Regions from separate parts of the Homo sapiens genome. Here region 2 is linked to region 1. Evidence: fine-mapped expression QTL. A gene starts in region 1. The other region holds a variant in brackets. All regions are shown on one strand. Distances are from middle to middle. Region 1 holds the start of STAT4 (signal transducer and activator of transcription 4). Region 2 overlaps STAT4 (signal transducer and activator of transcription 4).

What was found. PIP is the estimated chance that this variant, and not a neighbour inherited with it, causes the effect.
Region 2: its variant is the best candidate, but not a certain one, in a credible set for the expression of STAT4 in whole blood (TOPMed, PIP 0.68).

Annotation. Positions count from the first base shown.
Region 1 is chr2:191,149,539-191,152,344 of GRCh38, forward strand. It overlaps STAT4 (signal transducer and activator of transcription 4), which reads right to left and starts at 1,456. Exons shown (of 24, transcript NM_003151.4): 1 at 1,409-1,456. RefSeq lists a silencer at 1,096-1,145 and enhancers at 1,616-1,665, 1,796-1,875.
Region 2 is chr2:191,078,616-191,081,421 of GRCh38, forward strand. The region is part of intron 3 of STAT4 (signal transducer and activator of transcription 4); the gene reads right to left. Among named protein-coding and RNA genes, the nearest start is that of STAT4-AS1, 58 kb to the left of the region's middle. The variant G/A (reference allele first, on the strand shown) is at 1,338.

The sequences.
Region 1 (2,806 bases):
GGTAGGTGGATATAAGTAGTATGTCAACTTTAAAAAGGAAAAACTTGAAGATCAAATAGGCGAAATGACGCCTGCCTAATGTGTGAGGCTTCTAAGGGACAACCTGAGGTTTCCTGAGTCTGAACCATTTGTTTTTCCAGATATCGGATGTATATATATTCCATCGGATGTGTATATATTCCACACAAAATTGGAACATTTGTTCTCATGCTACTATCAACATTGTCCTATCTATCAATTTATTTTAGTTAATGACAACAGAGAACATGAGTTGAAAATAGCATTACAGTTTTTCATCATACTATTGTTAAACCCCCGCTATGATTTGGATGAAAAATCTATTTTCTAACTAAAACTTACAGGTAGATGGGAGGAATAAGTTCTAGTGCTGTAACACTAGGATGAATATGGTTAACAATAACTTAGTGTATATTTTCAAAAAGCTAAGAGGATTTTGAATGTTCACAACACAAAGTAATGATAAATGTTTGAGGTGATGGATATGCTGAATATCCTTTGATCATAACACATTGTTCATATTTATTGAAATATCACTGTATATTCCATAAATATTTACAATTGTGTGTCAAATGAAAATAAAAGGAAAATTAAAAAAAATAAAAATAAACACCGAAAAAAATCACTACTAAGATCTGAGTCTTTCGGAGAGCTGAATTCAAAGCTGAAAAAAGGAAGAAGAAGGAATACATAGTCCTAGGACATTTTCTATTGCAGCCTCTGGGAACGCCTTTAGACATCCTTCAGCAGGTTTCTTTGCTTTCACTCTCTAGGGGCTACTTCTTTCTCATGAAAACTGTGACGTTGCTTCTGAAAACTCAGTGCCTGTCTGTCCTTTTTGCGTGCATTTCCTAGAAGATCCCACTAAAGGGGCATTTTGTCCCACCGTCTGTGAGCTGGTGGTGCCGCTTTGGCTCTGTGGCCTGTAGCTTGCAAAAGGAGATGACCTGCCCTAAAATGTCACTCGCGCCCATCAAAGCCACAGTCACCGGCTGCCGTAGCTGCAAGCTTTTTTCTGAAATCCAGGTACGCTAATCTAAAGTCAGACATCACAGCTCTAGAGAAGCTGGCTAAGAAAGTGAAGAGGGGCTCACTTTCAGCCTCCGCGAGGACACACCTCCGCAGCCGCCGCAGCTCCCCTGGCCCCCGCAGGGAGATTCGCCCGGGCACCGTGGCGCGGGCCTGCGGAGCGGTTTCCGCGGAGAACCCGTGCCAGGGCGCATCTGTGGGTCGTGGAGTCGGGCGCTTCCTTCTATAATAAGCCTCCTCAGGAAGGTTAAAATGAAGCAATTGTCAAAACGCCAAGGGAAAGCAAAGCTTCAGAGTATCCTGCATAATAAGCATGTCCTCCTTACAAGAGGCAGCCAGAAGGTGTGGTCTGGCCACTTACCTAGCGCTCTCTCAGCACAGGTCCCAGGCAGTGCTCAAGTCCAAAGTCAGAAGCGCCCCTCACAGTCCCTAGGAGAAAGCCGCTGACGCCATCATCAGTAGGGGATTTGCATTTCTCCTCCCACTTGAGGCTTTCCTGTGCGTCAGTGTTCGAGTCTCTGGGACTTTACTTGGGTCAGTTCCCACCCACTCTATTCTAGAAATGCTAACACGCAGAAACTGCCAGGCTGGAGCCCCTTCACCGGGCGTCCTCTTCCCTCTTATCCCTCCCAGCGGCTCTCGCAACTGCAGGTGGCTCAGCAGTGCCAGGAAAAAGGGGAGGGGCGGGGCATACATTTTCTTCAGTGGTTTCCTTAGACAATCTGAGATCCTCTGCAGAGTTACTTACCTGGAGCCCAGTTCTTCAGCTTCCTCTCTCCCTAGTATAAGGCTCCACTCAGCCTGGTGAACCACCCCTGGGATGGAAGGGATGGGTAGCCAGGATCAAAACACCAAACTCATAGACCTTACTGGGCTCCAATTCCAGCGGGGTCCGCTCACTCCGACGAGGGTGACCTGACCCAGAGGGTTGGGCCAAGTCCTGGGTAGGCCACCAGTGCTTGCCCTTCCTGACCTAGCCTCCTCCTACTCTCCTTGAGTAGCCTTGCCCCTGGTTGCTACGGTGCGTTCTTCTCCCTTTGTGACATCAGCCTGTTCTAGAATCACAGAGTTGGAGGAAGTCTTGGTCCCATCTAATGCTAAATCCTCTTTCATATCTGAAGAGACCCAGTGAGGTGACCAAGAGGACTCAATAAGTTAGCCACGGAGCCCGATAATAGCCCAGGTGTTTCCCTTCCCACTTCAGTGGTCTTTTCATTTCATCTCCTTGTAGTTAGCTCTTAACCCCTTGATTCACAGTAGGGGTTCAATAAAATAAAGAGAAGTCCAGGCGTGTGGCTCACACCTGTAATCCTAGCACTTTGGGAGGCTGAAGTGGAAGGACTCCTTGAGCCCAGGAGTTTGAGACCAGCCCAGGCAACACAGTAAAATCCCACCGTATATTAAAAAATCAATAAAAATGTTTAAGAAAGTAAAAATAGTAAAACAAAGACAAAAATAAAGACAGACAGACAGACTGAAAGAAAGGTAGAAAGTGTCACTCAATTTGGTTATACACATGCTTAGAGCAATATACCAAGGTGAAAGGCCTGCCTCCCTCTTCCCTGACGGGTTTCACACAGGTACACCCTCTGGATTCTTCTCTCCCAGGTGACATTATCATGTGCTTAAACTTACCACCCACCCCCAAATAGGTCAATCAATCCAAAGTCACACTTTCCATATCACTGTAAATTTCCTGGTTAGGTAGGCCTGGTCCCCACTGCTTGTTGAGCAGGCAGTTTCCAGGAGCTTATGCTGC
Region 2 (2,806 bases), 71 kb before region 1:
TACTAAGTACGTGAACCTCAAAATAACAATAAAACAAACCCTTAAGTGTGTGTTAGTGGGAGGAAGGAAGCAGCATGCCAGAAAAAGAGAAACTGCTCATTTTCTGTAGTGTATCAGTTTCTCATGCAAATTTATTGCAAATACCTTCTACTCTATGGCTTATCTTTTTCCTATCTTCTAGTGTCAATGAAGAGGTTTTAAATTTTAATAAATCATTTATTAAACTTTATGCTTCTTATGATTTAAGAAATCTTTCTGTAAGCTGCAGGCATGGAGATTTTTCTTTGTGGTTTTGCACCATTGATTGTAATTAACTTGGAGCTTGTTAATAATGAGAGTTTTCTTTCATTTTTTTCCACATGTCTACCAAATTCCAATAACATTTACTGAACATCTTATTCTTTTACCACTGCTCTGCTGGGCCAGCTCTGTCATAAATCAAGTGTTCCTTTGTGGGTGGGCTTGTTTCTGGACTCCATTCCATCTTATGGTTCTCTCTCTGCTTCATCAATAGATAATCTTTTTGTGTTTTTTACTACAGCTTTATAGTAAGTCTTGATGTCAAGTAGAATAGGTCTTCTTTATATTTCTATATACATTTTAGAATCAACTTGTCAAGTCACGCACACACACATATGCACACCCTGGTTGAGAATTTGAATGACACTAAATCTTTAGGTAAAATTTAGGGAGACTTGGCATCTTTATACTTGTGTTCTAATCTATTTATTTATGTCTTCTTTAATGTTTCTCTATTAAACATTATAATCTTATATGTGTTTCACTGGGTTTATTTCTGTAGATGGTATTTTTTGATACTAGAATAAATATCTTTTTCCTCATTGTTTTTGCTGTTATATAGAAATATAATTAATTTTTGTATATTGATTTTGAATCCAGCAACCTTGCTAAACTCTGATTCTAATGCTTTTGTAATATCTCTTATTAATTCTAAAATTATATCTGTATATTCTTTGGAATTTTCTGCATATACAAATCATATATCATGTGGATATTGATAGAATTTTCCTCCTTTTTAATCATCTAACTTCCATCAGGATTTCATCTTTGTCCTAAGGTGACTTATTTAAAAATGTATTTGTTAATTTCTATACATAGGGATTTTCTATTTATCTTTTTTTTACAGATTTTTAGAATAATTTAATTTTAATCAGAATACATTCTCTGAATGACTTCAATCATTTTAAATTTGTTGAGACTTGTTTTATGACCCAGCATATTAATATCTTGTAAATGTTTCATGTGAGCTTGCAACAAATATGTATTTTGCAGTTGATGGGTACAAATGTTTCATACAGGTTTATTAAACCATGTTT[G/A]TTAATTGTTTTGTTCAAATTTCTGCATCCTTGCTGATTTTTCTTTGCCTGATAGATTTTTGCAGTCATTGAAAAAGGTAAGTTAAAATCTACTCTGTGAATTTTTCTTCTTGTGCTACTGTCATACACATTTAGACTTTTATATATTAGTGGTCAATGAAATCTTTTATTACCATGCACTGACCTTTATCTCTAGTAATGCTTTTTGCCTTGAAACAAAAATACAAAGTATACCACAATGCTTTTTATCACTTAGAATTTTTATTTTTTCTTTATTGGTAAAACTCTTGATTTATTTCAACATAGATATATATATTTACTAATATATCAGTATTGTGTACATATATTAAAAGGGAAGTATATGTGTAATAAATTGGCTAATGTCTTCCTAAAACTACTTCACTTTAGAGTTCAATTTTTCTGAATCTCCTTTAAACTTAGATTTATTGGCACTCATATTTTTCCATAAAATAATGTCTTCTGGGCCATCAAGCATGACAGCAATGCATATTTCTGTAGAGTGTGCACAATTATTGTCTTCATTTTGTAAGTTTTGATGCTGGCACTTTCTTGATCTCTCCAAAATTTCTCAGTAGAAGGTTTCAGACAAGAACCAGGACTCATATTTTTTCTACATATGGTTAAATGGTTTGTTGACTGAAACATTAAAGAGTTGTAATAGTCTAGTCATACCATCATGATAAACAACCACATCACTAATAGATGAGATTCGTATTTAACTTTTCAGGCAGATGTCCATGGAATCATTGAGAACCAGAATATATGGTAGATTCTCAGATGTCTATTCCAGAAGACTTCTAATCAGTCGTCTGTCACCACAGTCATTATCCATCCACTATCGTGTTTCACTCTTAATAATACCTTTGAAAAAGTTCTTTAAAATTTTTTTTTGTTATACTTTAAGTTCTGGGATACATGTGCAGGTTTGTTACATAGGTATACATGTGCCATGATGGTTTGCTGCACTCATCAACCTGTCATCAAATTAGGTATTTCTCCTAATGCTATCCCTTCCCTAGCCCCCCATCCCCTGACAGGCCCTGGTGTGTGATGTTCCCCTACCTGTGTCCATATATTCTCATTGTTCAACTCCCACTTATGAGTGAGAACATGCTGTGTTTGGTTTTCTGTTCTTGTGTTAGTTTGCTGAGAACGATGGCTTCCAGCTTCATCCATGTCCCTGCAAAGGACATGAACTCATCCTTTTTTATGGCTGCATAGTATTCCATGGTGTATATGTGCCAAATTTTCTTTATCGAGTCTATCATTGATGAGCATCTGGGTTGGTTCCAAGTCTTTGCTATTGTGAACAGTGCCAAAATAAACATATGTGTGCATGTGTCTTTATAGTAGAATGATTTATAATCCTTTGGGTATATACCCAGTAATGGGATTGCTGCGTCAAGTGGTATTTCTGGTTCTAGATCCTTGAGGAATTGTCACACTGT